7 linked regions of the Homo sapiens genome follow. The protein of the gene in region 6 purifies or fractionates together with the protein of the main gene of each other region. This does not show direct contact. Each region holds a gene or a part of one and is shown on either strand. Other genes may lie near its edges.

Region 1 (3,500 bases), on a different chromosome or scaffold from region 6:
ACAATCGTAACAGGGAAAAAGAGGTGCCCATTTCATCCCCTTGGCAAGAAGGAATACTCATAGCAAAACACTTATGTTGACAAGATACAAGAAAACAGACAAGAGAAAGAAAAAGACAAATAAGAAAACAGGTCAAAAAATACAAAACAAAACCCAAAGGCAACTTGAAATGGACAGTGTTCTTCCATAAAAGGACTCAAGAAATAGCAGACACCAATGTTCAAGAGGCTTCCATCTATTAAGATCACATTTCTATATGCTGTTTCGGGAATACCAAAAAGTAAAGCAAATGACAATTTTAGATAATTTACTAAAATGCAAAAATAAATGGTCATTTGAAGAAAGGCGGCTAGTAAGAATACTAATTTAATAATAAATGGGCCGGCGCAGTGGCTCACGCCTGTAATCCCAGCACTTTGGGAGGCCGAGGCAGGTGTATCACCTGAGGTCAGGAGTTCGAGACCAGGCTGGCCAACATTGTGAAACCCCGTCTCTACTAAAAATACAAAAATTATCCAGACATGGTGGTGGGTGCCTATAGTCCCAGCTACTCAGGAGGCTGAGGCAGGAAAATCGCTTGAACCTGGGAGTTGGAGGTTGTAGTGAGCCGATATTGCACCACTGCACTCCAGCCTAGGTGACAGAGTGAGACTCTGTCTCAAAACAAATTAATTAAATAAATGATATCACATGACAAAAAATAAAAAATGTATTTGACAAGCGAGAAAAAAAGATGATTTTGAGGAAAAGAAGCATAAACTAGCAATGAACAAATGGAATCTGAGGAACTACAAATGGTACCTCTGCAAGAAAGATAAGAGGAAAACTAATAAGGAGAAAATAAAAAGAAATTGACAGAAGTGATAGAAGTGAAATGAGAGCAGGGGATACAACAAGAGAAAGGGGCAAGGGAGAGAAACCGTGGTATTTGGATCCCATGACATGCGTGAGTGAACAGTGGACATCAAGTACAGGCAGTTGTGAACCACTTTATGGAGGCCACAGAAAGTGGGCTGCTGGGAGGCACCTGCTGCTTCCAGCCCTCTTCAGAGGTTTAGTCACTGTCCTTTGATCCTTGATAAATATTTCACATGCAAATGCATATGTGTATATTTTTAAAGTCAAGTTTGAGGGGGAATTAAGAGGTGACAGATAAAATTCTGAAAATTTTCACTTTGCCCAAAATGAAAGATGAGAGGAACCAGGCAAGGAAAAGAACAGCTGGAACAGCAGACATCTCCATCTTACGTTTATAACTTAATTTCAAGGTGCCCAAGTGATAAAGAGAGAAAAGTGAAAAGTGAAGAAAAAACAGGACTAAAAGAAAAAAGAAGTAGGAAAAATGAAATATTTCACTTAGTTAGAAGTCATTTATTAAATATTCACAAATATTTGTAACACAATCAGAAGAATACAAAAAATCAAAAACGAAAATCCAAATCCAAGTAGGAAAACTAATGCCATAGGCACAGAATGACACCTATGCTATTCTAAGAAACTTGGTTCCTCAGGGTAGGGCAGAACCAGCACATTACAAGGGAAACAGGAGCAAAACAAATGACAAGGAGATCAAAAAACTATAAACAGCTGCCATGAGTACTGAACTCTCTGTCCAGCAAAAAGCTACATCCCACGACCTCCAGAGACATCAACATATTATAGCACAGTACAAAAAATTATGTTACATGTGCTTTAAGACAGAAAAATAAATTGATAAATATCTATTATCTTTTTTAAACCATCAAAAAATTTAAGAATCCTGACCTACCGAGGACAGCAAAAATAATAATAATGATAAAAAAAACTTGGCCAGGTGTGGTAGCTCATGCCTGTAATCCCAGCACTTTGGGAGGCCAAGGTGGGAGGATTTCTTGAGGCCAAGAGTCCAACACTACCCTGACCAACACAGTAAGAGCCCATCTCTTAAAAACAAACAAACAAAAAAACCATAAAACTGAAACTTAAAAAGGAATATGCTTGTTAGCTGGAAACCAGCGATGTGTAGAACATTCCATGCCCCACCAGTGTCAGATAAAAGCACTACTAGAGAGTCCAGAGGCTAGATGATAAGGCAGTGTAAGCCATTCTGACTCCAACAAATAAATTTACAATTATTAATAAACAATTATTTACAAGTATAAATTAACAATTATTAATAAAAGACTCTTAGGGCTGGGTACAAGGGCTCAGGCCTGTAATCCCAGCACTTTGGGAGTTCAAGGTGGGAGGATCACTTGAGCCCAGGAGTACGAGACCAGTCTAGGCAACATAGTGAGATGCCTGTGTCTATAAAAAATTTTTAAAAAATTAGCTGGGTATGGTGGTACACGCCTGTAGTCCCAGCTACAGAGGAGGCTGAGGTGGGAGGATGGCTTTGGCCTGGGAGGTTGAGGCTGCAGTGAGCCATGACAGTGCCACCGCACTCCAGTCTGGGTGACAGAAAAGAGCCTATCTCAAAAAAATAAATAAAGGACTTTTAGGCAAGCTGCTAAAACATAAATAATCAATTTCTGTTTCCCAGAGTATAAAGAATCTTTAGCGCTAACATAATCTTTAGTATTATTTGGAGTTTTCACCAACTATACACTAAGAATAGCCTTTGTCACTTAGGTAAAAGAAGTTTAGATGAAATGAAGGTGATGAATAAAGCAATGCCACTAAAAAACAACCGCAGCAACAAAAGAAACCACAACTAGGTGATAGATGACAAACTTGTGCTGATAGTTTAAGAAGAGAGCAACTGGGAGATGACCCAAAATCCTTAAGAAGCTGTCTGGTTTACATACACTCAATTTTAACTTGTTCTTGTTTTTCCTGTTGTGCAAGGCGAGCTGCAACTTCTTCAGGTGGTCGCTCCCTTATAGAAGATGAGGATGCTTCTTCTTGCAGCAAAAGTAAATAAGAGGAAATCAAATTTCAGCATAGAATTTTAATAGCTAACAGGGATATAAAAAAAGCATCGTTTGTACTGGCCAGTTATATCAATGCAGGGCATTTTTGTGTTAAGAATTCTAAAACCATATCATTACTCTTAATGATTCCAAAATGAAGAAATAGGAATCAGGCTTTAATCTTCTTGTTTAAAAAGATACATTCGGACATTTAAATTTTAAAAATTTCCTAAGAAACTCTGAAGACCTAAACCTAGTGTAAATGTATACTTAGTGTCTACGTGTTGCCTAGGCATTAAATAGTTCTGATGAGTGTATCATGTATAAAAGAACAAATAGAAATAATTAAATTACCTGAAAGTGCAGGTGTGGGTTTTCCTTCACCAATTTCAGGGTGATCAGTTTTTAAAGATTCCTCAGGCTGAACTGCAGGGGCTGGGACCGACAGGGTATCACCTGCTGCAGAAATAATTTGAGCCGCTTCTGTAGGTGCTATAAATATATGTTACTCATGGTATTTATACTTTCCTGGGTTAACAGAGAAACACACAGAAATTTACTACCACCATCACCACCCACTTCACATCTGACTCCTTAGAGACACAAATA
Region 2 (3,500 bases), on a different chromosome or scaffold from region 6:
GAAGTAAAACACTTTGGGAGGTAAATGACCTCTAACAAACTCAAGAAGCAGTCACATGCATTCTAACTTTTGCAGGCAGTTCACAGGCTCCAAGTTATGATCTCGTCTAGGGGTTGGGAAACTACAGCCTGAGGACCAAATCTGGCCCCCCATCTGTTTTTGTAAATGAAGTTTTACCGGAACACAGCCATGCCCATTCATTTACAGTATGGTCTATGGCTGCTTTCGGACGACAAGGGCAGAACTGAATAGTTGTGACAGAGACCGTTTGGCCTGCAGAACCTAAAATATTTACTGTCTAACCCAGTATGGAAAAAAATTTTTTTTTACTGGATCTAATTATTCCCTGATCTGGATCAGCTCCTCATTTCACAGATGAAGAAACTCAGGCCCAGATGGGTTAAGAACTTGTAGCGTAGCAGGACCAAGAACTGAACCCAAACTCCTGACTCCTAGCCCAGTGCTCTTCAACACTGTCTGGATTTGAATGAAGGTGAGGGGAAAATGAATTCAATTTTATGGCAGTTCCTTTTGTTCCATATCTCTTTGCATGAAAACAAATATTTTATGTAATACTGAAGACGGCCTTTCCCACACAGAAACCATTTCATCAGGTTTAGTAACCATAAAGTGGACTTGATTTTGTAAGGATTATTTTCTGGTAAATGCATTTCAAGGTTCAATTAGCTAAACCTGTGTACACAAAAAGGTGTCCTACACCTCGCCTCAGAACATGACTTTCACATGGTTGGAGATGGTCAGTTTTGCAAGCCGTCAGGGCAGAAGTGAATGATGCAATCTTGGCTAGAAGTTAACTTCTTGGTATGCCCCTTGTCTGGGTTCTGCATTTGTTCTCACTGCATACACACATGCTCATGGAACTCCTCAGCAGCACAGTGCCAGGCGACAAGCCCAGGCATTCCTAAACTATCTCTAAAGCAATTGCAAGAAAATAAACTCCCTCCTACAGACCCACGGGGACAGAATCTGCTGTGCACAGGCTGCCTCCGGTTCTATTGTCAGCCAGCTTGTAGACATCAGAGTGTGTTGTAGGCCAAAGAGGAGAAAGACAGGTTTTTTTTCCCCAAGGAACTATGGCCCTCAGTTTGTAAAGGCACAGAGCCCAGACACACCTCACACCACCTGAATTCAAATCCCCATTAAGAAACAGCTTGGGGGCCAGGCGCGGTGGCTCACGCCTGTAATCCCAGCACTTTGGGAGGCCGAGGCACTCCAGCCTGGTGACAGAGCAAGGCTCCGTCTCAAACAAAAAAAAAGAAAGAAAACTGCTTGGGCACCATCTGGACAATCCTCTCCTCGACCAGGAGGTGGTGAACCTGGCCTGGCAGCCTCACCCCACAACTTTACCCAGAACCACCCCATGACTCACTACGGTGTGGGCAACAGCACCCCAGCCTTGCCAGCCCTATCCCTACCACTGGATTCTGACGGGGTCTGGGCTTCGGCTAGGATATTAATTCTACATCCATTTCTCCCCTTCACATTTTGCGTCTCCACCCGTCAGTGATATAAGAAAATACATAGATCTCCTAAAAGCTATTCTCCTTTCCTCCTGATTCTTTGTTGTTAGAATTTTACCGAACCACTGAAAGCTAATAGTAAAAGTGCTTGACAAAGGAAGAGCCTCCGGAAGTTAAAGGTGTTTGGCAAAAATGAATGGGGCAAACTGTAATCAGCAGCCGCACCTTTGTAAATATATCGACCAGGCTCTGCACCTCTGCAAGAGAACTGGCAGAAACCTGGGCTCAGGACCCAGATGGCAAGAGCTCAACACCACACCATTGTTTACTACTTGGAGGACCTTGGGCAGTTTGTTTACACTTTCAGTGCCTTTGTTTCCTCATCTGTAAAATGTGGATAATAATGACATCAACTAGGTAAGTTAGTTGAGATAATGCAAATAAAGCAATTATCACAATGCCTGACAACATATGTATTAATCTTCACCCACCAGATCCTTCCATCATCACCATCTCAATCCAGCAAGCATTTCTGTGATGTACCACCATGCCACTCTCGCCACTGTCTGGGAGACACCTGATTGCTAGATGCCTTCATACCTGAAGGGTTTGCTGTCAGGGTCAGTGTCCTTGAACCCCATCTCTTCAAGCTTACAGCGTCGGTACAATTCATAGTGGCGGGTGTGAGTCTGCTCTCGCAAGTCCTCCATGTTCACGCGGATCAGCATCTCTCGAAGTTTCACAAAATCGCAATGATTTTCATTCTCAACTACAAGAGAGGGGGGAAATGGCGGAAGTGGGATTAGCAATGATGTCACTGAAATATCTGCAGTGATGCTTCCAAGATGTTATTACCATCACTCCTGAAATCTCTGGGGTCTCAAGACCATCTGAAGATCCTTTACTGGATTCACCTTACATTCCTGACGAAGACAAGATTTCTGACAACATTGACCATAATACTGATGACAACGCTGACTGCTGAGTGCCTACTCAGCACAGAGCACAGAGGGAGGAGCTTGAAAACAAATATTGTCTTTACCCTTCATAATAACTCTGCCAACTAGATGTCATGACTCTTGCTTTGCAGACGCAGGAGCTTGGTGAGCAAGCTGACCTCCCAAAGAGAGGTAGCAGGGTCTAGATTCAAATGCCAGAACATCTGGCCCAAAGCCAGATGTATTTGTACCACTCCATGCTGTCTATAACTGTGCAGGGCCACTTTTACATACCACTTCATTTAATTTTATCAACAACACTAGGAAGAAAGGAGTTTTCTTATTGTAGAGAAATTAGTAAGAGTAAGAAAAATTGTATTTTTCCCAGGGATCTCAAAGGTACTGTTTCTTCTCACAGCTTTATTGCCTTTATTCAAAACAGAGGAAAAGGAGGTCTGATACATCTTAAACCAGCGAAGAACTTTCTTTAGCCATCCTGCTTAATCCATAGCACTGGATGTCCTCCTTCAGAACATAAGAGTAGGTCATAGAGTCCTTGTCATTCAAAGTGACACACGTGACAAGCTTTCAGGTTAGACTGTGGCCATGTCCCACAGTGCCAAATATAGATCAAATATTCTCCTAAGTCTCAGATTTACTAAGATAACATTTTATTAGAAGACATTTTTTGCATAGTTGATGGAGAAAAAAGTACCCTCTTGTTTGCAAGAAACTTTTTGCTGCTTTTTAATACTTGGCTGATGAAACGAGCTCCAACTCCTAGGGAAGAACTATTTTTCAATCAGGACTTTATATTAATTCCCTACACAACCCAGCATCCTTGAGGGGTTACCTCAAGGGCTTGGCAGCCATGTCTCTCCATTGTCTACCTAGCTGATTACTTTTTCTTTCTTCCTCACCTCCACGATTGTCACATGTGGAGCCCCACCACTCCCTCCCACTGCCAGCCCACTGTTGAGGGCCTCCCTAAACAAGACGGAAAATGAACAAACACGGCCATTCACATAGGGGCTAAATATGAAGACTCCATCTCCCATGCTGTGCACATACCCTGCACCAC
Region 3 (3,500 bases), on a different chromosome or scaffold from region 6:
CCCCTTTTTTTTTTTAGCTATACTTGCTGGAGTGGGCGGAAGACCCCTTTTCAGTGTGCCAGGTATGGGAGTGCAGAGATGAAGGCACAGTGCCCAGCCTAAAGACCTTCATAGCCTGGTAGGGCAGCCATATAAACGGATGGCAGCCACGCAGAGAACAGAGAATGAGGTAGTTACATGCGGGTGCCTGGGGGGCTGCTGCAGGAGCCCCCAGAAGGCGTCCCTCTGATGGGGTGGGAGATCCAAAAGGGTTTCTGGGGGGAGGTGAGGATTGAGCTGGGTCGAGAGGACATTCCGGCCTGGAGAACTGCCACACAGAGCCAGGCGTGTTCCAGGAATGGTGAGGGGTTAGGTGTTACTAGAGCAGGGGGCCACGTGGTTAGTGAAGGAGGAGAGCTCACTGAGGGCATGCGTGCTGGCAGCAGGTGGCTTAAGCAGAGGGCTGACATGGTCGGATTTGCCTTGCTCTGGGAGGTGGATGGGAAAGCCGTATGGCAGCAGATAGGGAGGAGGCGCCAGCAGTGGGGATGATGGTGGGCATGTTTGCAGTTGACATGGAAAGTGCTGGGTTGTGGCTTGGGCTGGGGGCCAAGAGGGCTGAGTCCAAGGCGGTTTGCCTGCCCACCACTACAGCAGGGGCTACACGAGGTGGTCAGGTCAGGCAGGACAAGGGAAGGCCCGTTTTGGACAAGCTGAGTCTAGAATGTCTCTGGGGACATCCAGGAGCCAATGTTTAGCAGGAGGTTAGGTATGAGTCTGGGCCACAGAGAAAACCCTTTCGGGGATAAGAGTGGCTGGGAGGAAGGTATAGGGTGTCAGCTGAAGAGTGCAGACCCCAGAGGGAGCAGAATAACAGTGGGAGGAGGGTGTTGCGAGGGGACCTCAGGAGGGTAACTTAGCAGCAGAGCAAGGAGTTCAGGGTGACCTCCGGCCTGGGCGGTTAGGAGGCCACTGGTGGCCCTGCTGCTGGCTTGGAAGGGCAGGCCTTGGCCAGCCTAGGTTGAGGAATATATGGGAGGGAAAAGACCAGGGGCTTGGGCAGGGTGACTCCAGGAAGGAGGCAGTTGAAGGTGAGGTTCCTGGGGGGAGAATGATCCCGGGTCATCCAGCAGGAAGAGAGAGGACCTAGAAGGTGTGAAAAAGAACTATCGGGCTGGGGGTGCAGTGGGAGGAGTATGCCCGGGGTGCTGTGGGGGTGGGGAGCGCCTGTGAGGGTTGGCAAGAGGAAGGGGAACCGGGGCCTGGCAGAGGGGAGCCCCAGACTGTCTCAAGGCTGGGAACTGAAGGCCTGGGCTGGGGCTGAGCAGGGCCAGGCTTTCGGACACACACAGCGTGGATCTTGCGCTGGACTTTGTGTATGCCCTGGCCTATCTTGGAAGCCCTGGTTCTCAATAGCCGGGAAGGGCCTGGGACGGTCCGAAAAGAGCTGGGCCTCTGCTGCACTGCCGCGGAAGCATTTGTGTTAGCTATCTCCCTGGGTACTGGGGTGACAGCCATGGGCACTCACCAGCAGCCGCTTGCCTGGCCTGGTGGCGGGGAGTATAGCCTTCAGTCTTGCTTGGTCCTCTCTCTACCACCAGGTGGCATGACCCCCACCCCTCAATTCCAGCTGGGAGGAGCGGTCCTCTTCCTCTTTCTACATCACTGGGATCCGCTCTGGGGCTGGGCAGCTCCTTGCCGGGGGCCTGGGTCTTAGTCAGACTTGCCTTTCTTTCTAGGCCTCTCCATTGACTTCTGGCCATGCCGATGTGAGTCAGATGCATTGTTTCTCTCTGGCTCCTAGGGCGCTCAGTAGCTTCCTCCACCTTCAGGCTGTAGCCCAGTGCGGGGCAGGCTGGTGGGCAGCTGGGGGCTGAGGCAGGGAAACCTGAGCCCTAGGCCACGAGGTCCTGGGCCGCTAATTTTAGAAAGCACATGTCACTGGAAACTCTCCTTCTCTGCCAGGAATCAACGGCCTGGCTCTCCTGGTGCTGCCAGGGGCCCCTGGGAGCCTCTCCCCAAACCAGGAACCTCAGGGGTGTCTCCTGGCCCGGGTGGGTACTTTCTGTCCTGAGTACATCTGGAAAGGGGCTCTGCCGAGGCCCTGGAGAGCCATGGCTTGGGCCAGGGAGGTAGCTCACCTTGTCTGCTCTTTACTTTCTCCAGCCCTTCCGGGCTGCCCCTGGCCATGAGCAGAGGCTGTGAAGTGTGAAGGCCTGGCTGGGGCAGGAGGCCACTTCGACTCTTCTGAGTAAGCTGTTGTTGAAGCACTCTGGACTAAGCAGATTTGTCTCTTCCTTCCCCCAGGCCCTGTGTGACCCTTGCCTTCTGAGGTGTGTGAGAAAGGAACCCCTGCCTTGTTTTGACTGTTTGAACGAGTCCTTCCCTCCTCTCTTCCTGCCAGCTAACATCTCGGGGCAAGGGTGAACCAAGGGAAATGAAGTGGCCATTCCAATCTCTGTTTGGGGACTAGCATCTGCCTCCAGCTGCCACCTGTTTGCCTGTCTCTCCTGGCTGCTTCAGAGAGGCAGCCTGCGCCTGTGTCCTGATTCCTCTACACCCTCCAGCCCAAGAAGACCTCATTCGGGGTGCTGTTACATAACGGATGTGTTCCAGCGCAGCCTGCATGATGGGTTGGGAAGGAGGCTGGCCAGAGAAGAGAGTTCTATCTTACGTTGGGACCTGGGAGCTGTTCCCTGTTAGTTTAGAGAGCAGAGTGGTTCCGAGCTCAGGTTCTGGAGTCAGGCAGACATAATTTGGAATTCCAGCCATGTCCATTTCTGGTTTTTGGCCTTGGGTACATTGATTTACGCTGCTGAACTTCAGTTTCCTCTTCTATAAGCTGGGGCAGTGATAGTAACTTCCTCATCAGGTAGATGTGAGGATGCGGCCTGGCATGTTGGAAGTGCTTGGATTGATTAGCTTCTCTCGTTACCTTACCAAGGCAAGCCCAGCCTCGCAGGGAGGAAGGTGGTGCTGTGGCTTGTCTGGCACGTCTAGGCCCCGACCCGGAAAGTGCCGCGTTCTGGGACCTCATGCTGTAGCGAGGCTCTTCCCAGCCCCCCAGGCTCCTGCTTCCAGCCCCTCTGAGAGCTGAGGGTGGCCGTTGGGCACAGCGGCAGAGGACGGCTCCTGGGCCCCACCTTTTCCCTCACGCTGCCAGCACCAGGTTGGCGGCTTCTCACTCGGCTGCCTTGGCAAGAGGGCAGGTCCAGGCTGGAGCTAGGTGTGGAGTGGGAGCAACCAGGAGGTGCTCCTGCCAGCCCTTCATGCTCTTTTTCTCACTTCTCCCTTCTTTTTGTAAATAATTGCAGCCTGCTTAGACGCCTGGTGACTCTCATTTCGCAGCAGGCCACGCTGCTGGCCTCCAATGAAGCCTTTAAAAAGCAGGCGGAGAGTGCTAGTGAGGCGGCCAAGAAGTACATGGAGGAGAATGACCAGCTCAAGAAGGTGAGCCCAGCTTCCCGACCCACCATGGGGCGTCCTGGTGTTACACTGTGGGAGCCACATTCTTCAGGGCC
Region 4 (3,500 bases), on a different chromosome or scaffold from region 6:
ATATTGCTAATGTTTGTCTTTTTCCTGATCAGTATCTATTTTATTTTATCTTCTGAAGAATTAGCTTTTGGTTTCATTGGTTTTCTCTCTCTCTTTTTTTTTTAACGGGCAGGAGGCTTTCCTTAACTTTGATTTGCTCTTATTCTAGTTTCTTAAGGCAAAAAAATTAGGCTATTTTCTTTTTTTTTTTGAGACAAGGTCTTGCTTTGTTGCTCAGGCTGGAGTACAGTGGCATGAACACAGTTCACTGCAGCCTCAACTGGGCTCAAGTGATTCTCCCACCTCAGCCTCCTGAGTAGCTGGAATCACAGGAATGCACCATCATGTCTAGCTAAATTTTAAAATTTGTTGTAGAGATGGAGTCTCCCTGTGTTGCCCGGGCTGATCTTGAACTCCTGGGATCAAGCAATCCTCCACCTGGGCCTCCCAAAGTGTTGGGATCACAGGTGTGAGCCACTGTACCTGGCCCTAGGCTGTTCATTTAAAAATTTTCTTGATAGTACTATTTTAACTGCATCTCACACATTTTCAAAGACTGCAGAGAGAGAAGTTAACTTGTGGGAATAAACGCAAATAATTCCTGTCCATGGAAATGCAGACTGTGTCCTGTGGAATACAATTAATACCCTGTGAATACTGTTCAGTTTTGCATCCATCTTGTAAATTCATTTCAGTTTCTTTATTTGATTATCAATGTATAGTAATTTGAGTTCCCTTTTGAACTGGCTGAAATATCTTACCAGTTTCCTTATCTTGTTAATTAATGAGATAAAAGTTTTGAGATGTCTTCATTATCATATAAGTCATGATTTTACCTATCTAAAAACAGCATCTCTTCAGAGTATTTTATTAATATAACCCTAAAGAATGAATGGGCCGGGTGTGGTGGCTTATGCCTATAATCCCAGTACTTTTGGAGGCCCAGGTGGGAGAATCACTTGAGGTTAGGAGCCTGAGACCAGCCTGGGCAACAAAGTGAGACCCTTTCTTTATAAGAAATAAAAAGATAAACTAGCTGTGGTTGTGCATGCCTACAGTCTCAGCCACTTTGGAGGCTGAGGCAGGAGGATTCCCTTGAGCCCGGGAGGCCAAGCTGCAGTGAGCTATGATCACACCACTGCACTCTAGCCTGGGTAACAGAGTGAGTCCCTGTCTCAAACAAAACAAAACAAAACAAAACAAAACAAAACAAAACAAAACAAAAAGAATGGTGCCTAGCATTTTGAAAATACTAATATTTTCTTACCACTGTAAGTTTCTACAAAAATTAGTGAAAACTTTCCCACACTCTTAGAAGTTTATGGAAACTGGTCAAGCAAGAAGGTTTTCCCATATAATAGCATTTTAAATTGACAGCACAAAGATGTTCAATCCAACTCCCCAAATAAATCAGTAGGCTTTACTTTACATCAGTAATCTGATAAAACTCCTTCAGATTACTTTTTAAAGTATTTCTTTACACAAAAACTATTTCTAATAATAACAGTAATAATTTCCAACAAAGCTTATTAACATCATTTTAAAAATCAAAAGAAACACCTTAGAATTTCCGAAATTTTATAATTTAAGAGGCTGGTAACTCACATTTGAACAAATGTTAAGGAAAGTAGTCAAATAAACAGTACAGTCTTCATCACTAATGCAATGTAAGCTCTAAATTAGCCTTTTTACCTTTTATTTCCAATAAGCATAATGACCATGTTGGAATTGGAATGCTGGCGGGCATCTTCTAACCAGGTTGTCAAGTGGTTGAATGTATCTCTCCTAAACATAAATAATAATTTAATTACTATGTTCAAAGCATTTCCCTCAGTATACAACGAACAATATACATATTTTTAAAGAGAACCACTTTTAGCCATATCCACTTATGTAACGAGAAGTAGTTTTAAGCACCATATCTGGGTTTAGAGTTCACTGATTGTATTTCAGTTTATAAATTAAATGTAATCACACTTTAGAAAATTCCAATGAATAAATAATATGGCCGATTTCAATTTGAAGGTGCTAATTCAAATAAGAAAAACAATTCAGTTGCAGGTTTCTGTAGTAAATTTAAATTGGACTCAAGATGCAGTTTTAAAGGTGAGTAGCCGGGGCAGAAAGGCTAAGCTATTCTTTCATTACTGTTAACCACATCTATTTAGAAAAATTCTCTGTATCAACTACTGAATTGCAAAGTTTTCAAGTTCTCACCGTGTAATATCGTAAACTAGTAAAGCTCCTGCTGCACCTCTGTAATACGACCTTGTGATGGAACGAAAGGATTCTTGCCCTGCCTGTAACGAAAAAAAAGGTTGGAGAGTTTCCTTTAATACAATGTCCTCTACATTTTCATATTATTCATATACAGAATAAGAGCAGGTAGGGAAGGAGTGCATAAAGAGAGACAAGAAAACTTAACTTCACCAGTCTTAGGAAAAAGTTACAAAACACCGCTATTGCTCAAGATTGCTCAAGTCAACGAGACGCACATGTAGTGCACATGTAGTCGCTCCTGCAACCTCCCCAGCCCGCAAGACCTCTAAACCCTTTTTGGCAATCCCTGACAACCCAATTTACTGAATGGCTTCACAATACACGAATCATTATTAAAGGACAGAATGGACTCCTAGCAACTAAGCTCTGAAGACAAATTTGAAAGGAAGCAAATAACCCAGAGCCTCACATTTGAATTCAATAACCCACTCCCTGGGGCAGCTGTTGACACTAGAATAAATAAAACCCATTGTAAATAAATGATGAATGACATCTTTACGCCCACCATCTGCTGGTGTAAAGGTTGTTGGAAGGCCAAGGATGCAGATTTTATCAGTTATATCATAAACTGCAGTGAGCTTTCAACAGTCATCAAATGGAATTCTTTGAGCAATCATTTTATTATGAAAAGCAAAATGGTTCTGAATTTAATTTATATAAGTTTTTTTCTCCACACTTAATCAATTTTCTCTGTATTTGATATATAATGCTTGTCAAAAGGCAACAGGATGTAAAAGTCATCTTTATATCCACTTGTGAAACAGACACAAGAGATTATGCAAAGCTAGGTAATTTCTCTTTTACTCATGGTACTAATTTCTGTTTTTTTAAGAATTGCTGGGGAGGAATGTGACTGTTCTGTCTGAGTTTAAAACCGAGACAGCTCTTATAAGAAGTTATTTTTCATTTTTAATCCCTTCTTTTCCTACTTTTGCAAAAACATAAGCATTTTAATTAAGTAAACGTAAAGCCAATTTTAACGATTTTTATATTCAAAATCCCCTAACTTGAAAAATATTGATGTTTACACATTCTGAGTTCTGATCTTGCAATGTAAATATTTAGCCCTTCCCACCCTCAGAATGCGCATGGACGGCTCATATTCTACCCTGTTTAACACTCAACACTCTACAATACCTTGCTCTTGTTGACCCTTCCTCTATACTCCCTCCCTCCCCCATCCCCCACCCCCTGCATGTGACTAAGTGTGTGCTAGGCACTGGGTCCGGCATATAGCAGGC
Region 5 (3,500 bases), on a different chromosome or scaffold from region 6:
CATATAGTTAGTAGGTGATGGATTCCAGGTGTGAACTTGGGTCTTACTGCCTTGAAATCCTTTGTTCCATGATACCATACTGCCTCAGAAGTAGAGTTCTTCATTAATTTCATGTGGTTTGTTAATGGGAGGGTAGGAACTCGAATTTCACACACTTCTCCCAGTCCTGTAATTCCAGTGTTATCCGCCATTCTTAGTAAGAGGTGTGAGGTCTTGGAGTTAGGTAAGAGGGCAGCCCATCTGACCTATTTGTAAAGGTCGATTGTGTCTTTTAAGTGTCCCTTGTTCCTCAAAGGCTGGAAGAAAGAAACGATTTCCTTGTTCCATCTTTTGCTGCCAGGAATGAATAAAGCAGAGGAGTTTGTGCTTCTAATCTACTTCTTCACAAAGGAAAAGATTTGTCATGCTTCTTTGGAAATGGGACTGAATTCTGATGTATTAGCTTTTACATATGAAAATTTGTATTTTAATTCCTTGAGTTTGAATAACAGATAATATGGGAAATCTAATATCATACAGGCTCAGAATATCTGCTCTGTTCAGTATCAAACTTATCCTTTGCAAACTCTCTTCTTCCTGTTGGTTTGTTTTTAATTTTGACCAATAATACCACTGGTTCTTGGCCCCCATGTCCAGCCCAGCTAGTCAGGAAATCCAGTCATTTCCACCTTTTTAGTATTGTATGTCTCATCTTTAGTATATCGTCTGTGCTATAAGTCTTATACCACTATCCTGTTTAAAATTCTTCTGGAAAGCCAAGTAAACTAGAAAGGATAAAGTTGAAACTTGTTAGCATGGCACATGTGGTCCTTCCTGATGTGGCCGTAGCCTGCCTTTTCAGACCCATCTCTTTCTACTTCCTACTCAAGTGAATTTGATTCCTGCTTCAAGCAACAGGAACAGCTCCTTTTTCTTAACCTCTGCATTTACTTTTTCCTGTATCTGGATTTTTCTTTTTCCTGGAAAATTTTTATTTGTTCTTTAGGGTTCAACTCAAGGGAATCACTTGTATGAAACTTTTCCTTTTGTCTTCAGGTAGAGGTAAGCATACATTGCTCTGTAATTCCATCATGCCTTTATTTATTCACACTGTGAGAGATGGTATTGTGCAGGTATCTTCTCAGTTTATCTTTTTGTTTCTGAGACGGAGTCTCACTCTGTCGCCCAGGCTGGAGTGCAGTGGCACGATCTTGGCTCACTGTAATCTCCACCTTCCAGGTTCAAACCATTCTCCTGCCTCAGCCTCCCGAGTAGCTGGGATTACAGGTGTGTGCCACCACGCCCGGCTAATTTTTGTATTTTTAGTCGAGATGGGGTTTCACCATGTTGGCCAGGCTGGTCTTGAACTCCTGACCTCAAGTGATCTACCTGCCTCGGCCTCCCAAAGTTCTGGGATTACAGGTGTGAGCCACTGTGCCTGGCCACTTTCTGAATTTATCTTTAGGCTATTTTATTAACAGTTGATTTCTTGATAACTAGGACTGTTTACTTCCAGGATTAGATGGCATTTTATTCATTTAAACTTGTCAAGCAAGAATAACCTCTTTGTTCTTTTTGTTTCCCTAGTATCGGTTTTATGGAGAACCTGTAATAAAAGCATGTATTGAAAATGGAGCCAGTTGTATCGACATCAGTGGAGAACCTCAGGTATAAAAAATAAAAAGGAAAAACGTAGAATTAACACATAAATTTCGGTTTAATGAAGTGGAAATATTTAGTGTAATTTTGCAGACATATTTAGAAGCCGACAACTCCTTTCTAGCATTCAGATATGGTATTCGTGTGGTATTCCATTGATAGCTCAAAGGAGAGCGCTGATGGTAAGGTCTTAGCTTCAGTTTTCTGAATTTTTTCCCTCCCTACAACATCATTTCTTATAGGTCTGTGCTTATTATAGCTACTTCATGCTTTAAACTGAATCAATTAAAATAGCGGACTGTGCATAATTCTTAGAATCTCAATTCTGTCATGTTTTCATTTTGAATTCCCTTTTAAAAATCAGGTACCTTTAGGCCGGGCACGGTGGCTCACACCTGCACTCCCAGCACTTTGGGAGGCCAAGGCGGGCAGATCATGAGGTCAGGAGATCGAGACCATCCTGGCCAACACGGTGAAACCCCATGTCTACTAAAAATACAAAAAGTGAGCCGGGCATGGTGGCGGGCACCTGTCATCCCAGCTTCTTGGGAGGCTGAGGTGGGAGAATGGGGTGAACCTAGGAGGTGGAGCTTGCAGTGAGCCGAGATCACTCCACTGCACTCCAGCCTGCGCCACAGAGCGAGAGCGAGACTCTGTCTCAAAAAAAAAAAGAAAATTCAGTTACCTTTATAACATTACAGAAAAATAAAGGTAAAATTCACTAGTGTAAAATCAACCTAAACATTTTAAATGTTCACATTTATTGAATGCTTACCATATGCCCAACATTGTGCTAAGTGTTTTATGTAACTTTTTAAAAATATACCTATAGGGTAGTTATCTTCCTCCATTTTTTGTAGATGAGGAAATTAAAGCTTAGGAAGCTTAAGTAACTCACTCAGTAATGCACCTAGTAATGCACCTAGTAATGCACCTAGTAAGTAGAAGAACTAGGTCTTCAATTGAGGTTTGCCTGACCACAGGAAGTTATGTGTTAACAGGCATTAAGCTCTACTACAGCCTTTAAAATGGTAACCTCATGTGTCTCTGTAGTAACTACTGATTATCATCATCAGCATGCCAATATGATATTAATATGCATTTGCAGTTTATCAATTGGTAAAATACTGGAAAATACTGAGACAGTGTAAATTACAAAAATTGATTCAAAAAGGAGGAAACAAATTAAAAAAAAAAAAAAGCCCAGGCGAGGTGGCTCACGCCTGTTACCCCAGCACTTTGGGAGGCTAGGTGGGAGGATGACTTGAGCTGGTGAGTTAACAAATTAGCCAGGAGTTGGTAGCACACACCTGTGGTCCCACCTACTCAGGAGAATGAGACAGGAATATCACTTGAGCCTGGGAGGTCAAGGCTGCAATGAGCTATGATCATGCCACTGCACTCCAGCCTGGGCAACATAGTGAGACCCTGTCTCCAAAAAACAAAAACAAAAAACAATTCCCATGTTATTTTAAATAACCCAGAACATAGAAAATGGTGAAAAGCTTTTAAGTCATCTAGAAACTATCATAAAAGTAGTATCGAACCCCCCCCTTTTTTTTTGATACAGGGTCTCTCTCTCTCACCCAGGCTGGAGTGCAGTGCTACGATCTTGGCTCACTGTAACCTCTGCCACCTGGGTTCAAGCGATTCTCCTGCCTCAACCTCCTGAGTAGCTGGGGGTACAGGTGCACACCACCACACCTGACTAATTTTTGTATTTTTAGTAGTGACAGGGTTTCACCGTGTTGGCCAGCTTGGTCTTGAACTCCTGGCCTCAAGTGATCCACCTGCATCGGCCTCCCAGAATGCTGGGATTACAGGCATGAGCCACCACGCCCAGCCATAATATCAAAACCTAA
Region 6 (3,500 bases):
GGCCAAGATGGTGAAACCCCGTCTCTACTAAAACTACAAAAATTAGCCAGGCACGGTGGCAGGCGCCTGTAATCCCAGCTACTCGGGGTGCTAAGGCAGGAGAATCACTTGAATCCGGGTGGCAGAGGTTGCAGTGAGCAGAGCAGAGATCGCACCACTGCACTCCAGCCAGGGTAACAAAGTGAGACTCTGTCTCCAAAAAAAAAAAAAAAAAAAAATTCCTATTATTTAACAGTAAGAGTTAAACCATGAAACTGTGATAAGGAGTAGAAAAAATAAACTCAGTTTCTCCCTCTATACTCTCATAAGGCCTAGGGAGAATTTCCCACACATCAAGCAAACGATTCTGCAGCAGACTCCAGCTAGATGTTCTCTAATTCAATTCTGATACTATCTACCTGGAGAGAGAGCATCGGATCACACAGGTTCAGGGCTCAGTTTCATAAAACTGCCCCGCCCTCATTTTCAATGCTAACTGAAAGCTCCAGGTTCTTTTGCCTCTGCTTCTTACAGACTGGTTATAAACTGGGGTTCCCACAACCCCCTGGGGTTCAAGTAATTTCCTAGGGTGGCACACAGAACTCAGGGACTAACACATTTACCAGTTATATAGGATATTTTAAAGGATATAAATGAACAGCCAGATGAAAAGATACTTATATATCTTTTCCTTTATAGGTGAGGTCTTGAAGGGTCCCAAGCACAGGAGCTTCCATCCCTGTGGAGCTGGGGTGCCCCACCCTCCCATGACATGAATGTATTATTGTTTACCTTCCTGAAGGCCCCCTGGACTCAGTCCTTTGGGTTTTTACAGAGACTTCATTACAAAGGAGACTTCATTACAAAGGCACGATTAATTAAATCACTGGCCACTGGCTCAACCTTTAGCTACTATGCCCTCCCCAAGGCAGAAGGTTTGTTCCCTAGCAACCAGCACCCCCTACCATGTGGCCATCTAGGGACTATCCAAAAATCACCTCATTAACATAAGTTCAGATGTGGTTGAAAGAGGCCTGTTAAAAATAACAACATAGCCCAGGGCGCAGTGGCTCGTTCCTGTTACCCCGGCACTTTGGGAGCCAAGGCAAGTGGATCACCTGAGGTCAGGGGTTGGAGACCCACCTGGCCAACACGGTGAAACCTCATTTCTACTAAAAATACAAAAATTAGTCGGGCTTGGTGGCAGGCACCTCCAAACCCAGCTACTAAGTAGGCTGAGGCACGAGAACTGCTTGAACCCGAGAGGCGGAGGTTGAGGTTGCAGTGAGCAGAGATGGTGCCACTGTACTCCATCCAGCCTGGATGACAGTGAGATTTCATTAAAAAAAAAAAAAAAAAAAAAAACCCACAAAAGACTGTCTTTCACTTTTATGCTCTGGAGCTGTTTCAGGAACCGAGGACAAATGGCCAAATATCTCAACAAAATACACTCTTACGGCTCTAGTCACTTGGGAAATTGCAAGGGTTATAGAAGCTGTGAGCCAGGAACTTGACAAAAACCAAAATATATACACCATAGTATCATAGGCCACCCCCTGGTTTCAAACAGGGATCCCTTACAGCAAAAAGGTCCATATATCTGTCAAGGATGTTTACACTTGTTGCATTTATATAACAGACATATCTACAAGAGTACAAACACAAATATGCCTATCATCTGGAGAAGCTACTGTGGGATAGGGATAGGTTTAAAGAAGCAACTAGGATGGGCGCAGTGGCTCACACCTGTAATCTCAGCACTTTGGGAGGCTGAGGCGGGCGGATTACCAGAGGTCAGGAGTTTGAGACCAGCCTGGCCAACACGGCGAAACCTCATCTCTACTAAAAATACAAAAATTAGCCGAGTGTGGTAGTGGGCACCTATAATCCCAGCTACTCAGGAGACTGAGGCACAAGAATGGCTTGAACCCAGGAGGTGGAGGTTGCAGTGAGCCGAGATCACGCCACTGCACTCCAGCCTGGATGACTCCGTCTCAAAACAAAACAAAACAAAACAAAAAAAACCTACTCGGTCCTATGAAGAGAAAAAAAAATAGCTCAGCAGTATGAGGAATGTGAGGTATGCAAAGTTTATCAGGCCCAGAGAGACATGAGAATGAGACTTTAGTCACAGGACACACCCCCATGCCTAGGGGAAATTGTTTAAAAACACTTTGTTCTTTTTTTCCTTCCTTGTAGTTTCCAGGCTCGCTGGCAAATATCTAAAGTGTTACTGCACAATGTGACCCTCACCCATTATCTTCATGTTCCTGGAATCTGTGATACAAAGAACAATGTATAGCCAATCACTAATCAATGTTATTTCTGTAAACCAAAGAGAATTCCTGCCAAACAACTTTGTATCAGCCCACATCCTGTCCCGAATTTTTGGCCTTTAAAAACCTGTTTGTAACAAGGGCCAAATGGAGCTCAAATCCACTTGGATCTGAGTCTGCTGGGCAGCTGTCCTCATTATGGTGCAAATAAATTCTTTAAAATTGTATTTTGTGCCTTAGTTTCTTCCTTTAGGTTGACAGAAGCCATTAGAAACATCTTTATCATCTTGTACCAGCTTTCTTTTCCCTTGATCTACTGTTATTTGTACCTTGTGCAGAACTATTCAGGATGGAAATCAGCTGATAGTGAGATCCAGTTCCTCCTCAGGCCAGTCACTTTCCATAGGTATTATATCCTGAGGAGGCTTCAACTCAATTTCACAATACATATAATCATCAATCAGTATTATAAGACTTATTTACACAAGGGAGTTTAATCTGCCAACAATATTACCATATGGCAGTATGAGCATGGTACAAAAAAAATCAGTTTCGTTACAGATCAGTAAGAATTAGAGATATTTGCTTTGCCTTTCCAACAGAAATCTACCCTTCCCCATTTGTCAGCCTTTATCTTGATTAATAAGCCTGACTACTGCCCCAGGCAATTTCAGATCACATTTCTCAATGTAATCTCTAACTTCTGACTTTTTAAATTTCTCCAAACTGGGCAAAATACAGCAAATACAGGTCTTAGGGGTACTTTTTACCCTTGCAAGGTGGCTTTGAGGCTGGTGGCCAAGGCTTAAACCAAATGAAACCTGAGCTTGGTCTAGCATCAAGGTACAATCCAGCACTCTTTCACTTTGATTTTAGCTATCACAAATAACAATAATCAAGGGATTGTATATTTTGTTTGTTTCTTATTGTTTGCGTTTCCTTATGCACCCAGTGAACCAACTCCCTTGGAGTTGGATCTATCTTTGAATTCCACTGGTAATTTTTAAGTACCTGAGCACAGCACAGTTGTGGCTCCATAGCAGGGGTGACCATCTGACCACCCAGGAGTCAAAAGTTCCTCATTTCCCATCCATTTATCCTTTTTCTTCCTAAACCATGCTTCGATGAGCCACTCTAGCTAGAGCCACTCTAGCAAATCCCAATCCTGACATCAATTCTGAGGATACAGAAAAAAACCAACTCAGTTTCTCCTACTATTCTCTCACAACACAGAATGCTTCTGTG
Region 7 (3,500 bases), on a different chromosome or scaffold from region 6:
AGAAGGTAGTGGGTTTTTCTGTTTGTTTGTTTGTTTGTTTTTTGAGACAGAGCTTTGCTCTTGTAGCCTGGGCTGGAATGCAATGGTGTGATCTCAGCTCACAGCAACCTCTGCCTCCCGGGTTCAGGCAATTCTCCTGCCTCAGCCTCTCGGGTAGCTGGGATTACAGGTGCCCGCCACCACGCTTGGCTAATTTTTTTTTTATTTTTAGCAGAGATGGGTTTCACCATGTCGGCCAGGCTGGTCTTGAACTCCTGACCTTAGGTGATCCACCCACCACAGCCTCCCAAAGTGTTGGGATTACAGGCGTGCGCCACGGCGCCTGGCGGTTGTGCATTTTTATGCCTCTCAGAAAAGGTGTGTATGTGTGCAATGGAAGCAATTAATACTGAGTATCTTCTATCTTAAGCTATTATCTAACAGGCAGGGGCTATAACTAGCAGCCGCCTTAGTGCCCACAGTTAAGAATCTGTTGTATAGGCATACCAGGCAGGAGGTGTAGACATCATATTCTGGGGCCAGACGCAGAGGCAGAATGGGTGCTTTGCGGTTGAGTGCACATGGCCGAGAGGACAGAGCTGGCAGGAAGACCAGGGCCCTGCAACCAGCAACTGTGACCAGTGCACCCTTGCCGCTGCAGCAGAGCCTGGTCCGAAGCTGATGACAGAGCTGATGCACCAAAGTGTGTGACATTCTATCTGGCCCTGGTGCTGGCTGCCAAAGAGGCTGTGGCCAGCAGGAGCCAGGTGCTTCCTCATAGACATCACCCATCCCAGGAGAAAGGTGGCAGCTGGGACTTCTAACATCAGGACCCCCCCAACTCCTGCTCTCTCTGGGCCTGCAGGTGACCTGGCTTCCCCATGCACATACCTGGTTTCCCCCAGCATTGTGACATTCATAAACTCCAACCACACCATCAGCAAAGTGTCCCAAAGTGTCGAGGCAGTTAGTTCCCTGCTGCAAGGCCCCAAAAGCTATATCCTGATGGTCTGGAACCCTGAAAAACAACGTGAGAATCACCTGCTTCACTGCACATGACCACCAGCTCCCGTCCACCAGCCCCTTTGCTCAGTGGCCTCATGACAGGTGACAGGAACGAGAGAAAGACCCAGTGACTAGGCATCGTGCCTCTTCCTACCACAGGTAGTGTGTGTCAGGGACACGGCATTTCTCCCAGGCTCTGGACTTCCAACACTTTAAGACTGTATGTTGCAGAAGTATTCTTTATATTCTATATCAGGTCATTTTTTTTTTTTTTTTTTTTTGGAAAGGAAGGAAAAGCTCCTGATACTCTTCAATGTTAGTCTTATTGGAAGTCATTTAGAAAATCAATGTGGTCAGATCCTGTTGCCTTGAACTTTCCAATACACTTAGGATCTGACCTTTATCCAGTAAAGACGGGAAAGGTGGGCAGACTTGTCAGGTGGTCTAATGTGAACAAAGCCACAGCCACGGGGAAGAACAACGTGCTTCAGAACCAGATCCAAACCTCAGCCCACCTCTGCCAGGTGCTGGCTTTCAGGCAAGACTCACTTTCTCTGAAGCTCGATTTGCCCTTTGGTAGGCTATGGGCTACCCAGATCTGCTGCAAGTGTTACATAGAACATTTCGTGTAAAGCACACGGCCCAGTGCCTGGCTCGTAGGAGGCACTCAGTAAACGGCGGTGATATTACAGACACAAAACACGAGGCTGATGTCTCCCTCACCCCCCACAGACAGGGGAAGCAGATTTGCCAGCCAGGATGGTGCTCAGTGCCTCAGATGTGGTCTTCAGTGGGTGCGGGGCCCAGTGTCACTACAAACCATGGGTGACCTCTGTGAGAAATGGCAGTCAACTGTGACTGAAAAAGCAAAGTGAGTGGCATGGTTGGGTTAAAATCCACTGAATTGAAGCCCCTCTTTGGCTGACGGAGAGTTGATGAGCAGCCGCCTTAGTGCCCACAGTCAAGAATCTGTTGTATAGGGACACCAGGCAGGAGGTGTAGACATCATATTCTGGGGCCAGACACAGAGGCAGAATGGGTTCTTTTGGGTTGAGTGCACATGGCCGAGAGGACAGAGCTGGCAGGAAGAAGACCAGGGCCCTGCAACCAGCAACTGTGACCAGTGCACCCTTGCCGCTGCAGGTGACCATCGCTGGTGACCATCTGGTGCTCTCAATCCCCAGCAAAAGCTGTCCTGCACGGCAGGGATCCGAGGGAGAAGGACGCTGTGTTCTCTCCTGTTCTCCTCCTAGGGGGCATGGGCCACCTGGCGCCTGGCATGTTACTTGAAAAGCAGAGGAAACGGTTCCAAAGAGCCAAGTGAGCGAACAGGAGCAACAGAGAGAGGCCGCATTACCTAACTGTCCAACAAATCTCCGTGACAAGGGCTCTGAAGGAGCTGTTAGCGGAAAGATAATGGTGGCAAGTCTTGCGTTCGCAGGCACTGTGCTGGAGATATGTGAGCCGCTGTAAAATGCTCTGGGAATATTTAGAATAAGGAATGTGCCGCATTAAGGCACGACCTGCCTGACAGTCCCTTTAAGAAGATGAAGTGCAGATGGCTCCTCCACCCCAGCGGATCTATAGGTCTTCTCACGAGGTTATCAGCAGGTCCCTCCAGATGGGGAGCTCGTATTCGCTTAAAACAAGAGGCTGGGTGTGGAAATAATGCTCAGAAAGGTGTTTCTGCCATGAATCCTCCGGAGGGACGTGGGGCAGCAGCATTATTACTTCCGTTTCACATGTGATTAACCTAGCTGGGAGGAGGGAGCCTCGTGGGGGCTGTTATCTGCTGGCCCACAGGAGCAGCAAGGGTGAGCGCAGCAGATCGGAGGCATGCAAAGGCGCCTGGCGGGGGGATCGAGGGCTGGCTGCAGACACTGCATGCTTGCGGAGGCTGGGGACTGCTCCTGGTCACTCGAAGAGCCTGTCAGACACCAGTCCTTCAGGTCACCCAGCCCATCACCTTGCCAATGGAGAACAAGCCAAAAACAAGGTGAGGCCCGGGGGACTGCCTCTGGGACTCCGAAGCATGGGAGGGCAGCTCTGCAGGACAGAGACAGCAGCAGGCCAACTTGGGAGCAGATTCTCAGCTCCACACCATGGAGTGAGACCACAGGCTCTCACTGGGGCCCAGGTGCCCAATCTCATGCCTGCAGCCCCACCTCCATTTCCCCTCTGCTGCTTCTATGGCCTTACTGGCTTCTAAGCCCTTACAAAGTGAAACCCCAGATCCCTGGGGACTTACCTTAACTCTGGATAGACATTTTCAAGGTACCATTTGAAAGGCTTGCAGCTGAGTTTCTTCCTAAGCTCCAATCTGCTCTGAATACTGGAGAAGAGGGAAATAAGATTCCTTTATAAATTTTAAGAATAGATGGGCTTTCTACATCAAACTTGAAAATCTGCTGAGGAGAACAGGGTTGGGGCAGGTGGTGTGGTGTGGACTGCCCATGCTCCTGTGCCCACAACCCCTTCCCGCCTTGGCACCTGGGTAGCTGAATTCAACGCTGGGG

The links.
Region 1: the proteins of VDAC2 (region 6) and IMMT fractionate together in Homo sapiens (co-fractionation; 2 studies listed by BioGRID). This does not show direct contact.
Region 2: the proteins of VDAC2 (region 6) and SEPTIN11 fractionate together in Homo sapiens (co-fractionation; 2 studies listed by BioGRID). This does not show direct contact.
Region 3: the proteins of VDAC2 (region 6) and BCAP31 fractionate together in Homo sapiens (co-fractionation; 2 studies listed by BioGRID). This does not show direct contact.
Region 4: the proteins of VDAC2 (region 6) and RAB2A purify together in Homo sapiens (affinity purification with mass spectrometry; 2 studies listed by BioGRID and IntAct, with this or other methods). This does not show direct contact.
Region 5: the proteins of VDAC2 (region 6) and SCCPDH fractionate together in Homo sapiens (co-fractionation; one large-scale study listed by BioGRID). This does not show direct contact.
Region 7: the proteins of VDAC2 (region 6) and GALNT2 fractionate together in Homo sapiens (co-fractionation; one large-scale study listed by BioGRID). This does not show direct contact.

Annotation. Positions count from the first base shown.
Region 1 is NC_000002.12:86,167,963-86,171,462, forward strand, and holds part of IMMT (MICOS complex subunit MIC60), read right to left. Parts: intron 3,420-3,500; exon of another isoform or gene 3,384-3,419; coding exon 3,246-3,383; intron 2,883-3,245; coding exon 2,787-2,882; coding exon of another isoform or gene 2,779-2,786; exon of another isoform or gene 1,351-2,778; intron 1-1,350. UniProt on the Homo sapiens protein: Component of the MICOS complex, a large protein complex of the mitochondrial inner membrane that plays crucial roles in the maintenance of crista junctions, inner membrane architecture, and formation of contact sites to the outer membrane.
Region 2 is NC_000004.12:77,019,252-77,022,751, reverse strand, and holds part of SEPTIN11 (septin-11), read right to left. Parts: coding exon 3,491-3,500; exon of another isoform or gene 2,251-3,490; coding exon 2,082-2,250; exon of another isoform or gene 1,976-2,081; intron 494-1,975; exon of another isoform or gene 1-493. UniProt on the Homo sapiens protein: Filament-forming cytoskeletal GTPase. May play a role in cytokinesis. May play a role in the cytoarchitecture of neurons, including dendritic arborization and dendritic spines, and in GABAergic synaptic connectivity.
Region 3 is NC_000023.11:153,703,888-153,707,387, reverse strand, and holds part of BCAP31 (B-cell receptor-associated protein 31), read left to right. Parts: intron 1-3,293; coding exon 3,294-3,429; intron 3,430-3,500. UniProt on the Homo sapiens protein: Functions as a chaperone protein. Is one of the most abundant endoplasmic reticulum (ER) proteins.
Region 4 is NC_000008.11:60,582,987-60,586,486, reverse strand, and holds part of RAB2A (ras-related protein Rab-2A), read right to left. Parts: intron 2,280-3,500; coding exon 2,197-2,279; intron 1,765-2,196; coding exon 1,672-1,764; intron 1-1,671.
Region 5 is NC_000001.11:246,734,409-246,737,908, forward strand, and holds part of SCCPDH (saccharopine dehydrogenase-like oxidoreductase), read left to right. Parts: intron 1-1,566; coding exon 1,567-1,647; intron 1,648-3,500.
Region 6 is NC_000010.11:75,224,296-75,227,795, reverse strand, and holds part of VDAC2 (non-selective voltage-gated ion channel VDAC2), read right to left. Parts: intron 1-3,500. UniProt on the Homo sapiens protein: Non-selective voltage-gated ion channel that mediates the transport of anions and cations through the mitochondrion outer membrane and plasma membrane.
Region 7 is NC_000001.11:230,262,738-230,266,237, reverse strand, and holds part of GALNT2 (polypeptide N-acetylgalactosaminyltransferase 2 precursor), read right to left. Parts: intron 3,317-3,500; coding exon 3,233-3,316; intron 998-3,232; coding exon 871-997; intron 1-870. UniProt on the Homo sapiens protein: Catalyzes the initial reaction in O-linked oligosaccharide biosynthesis, the transfer of an N-acetyl-D-galactosamine residue to a serine or threonine residue on the protein receptor.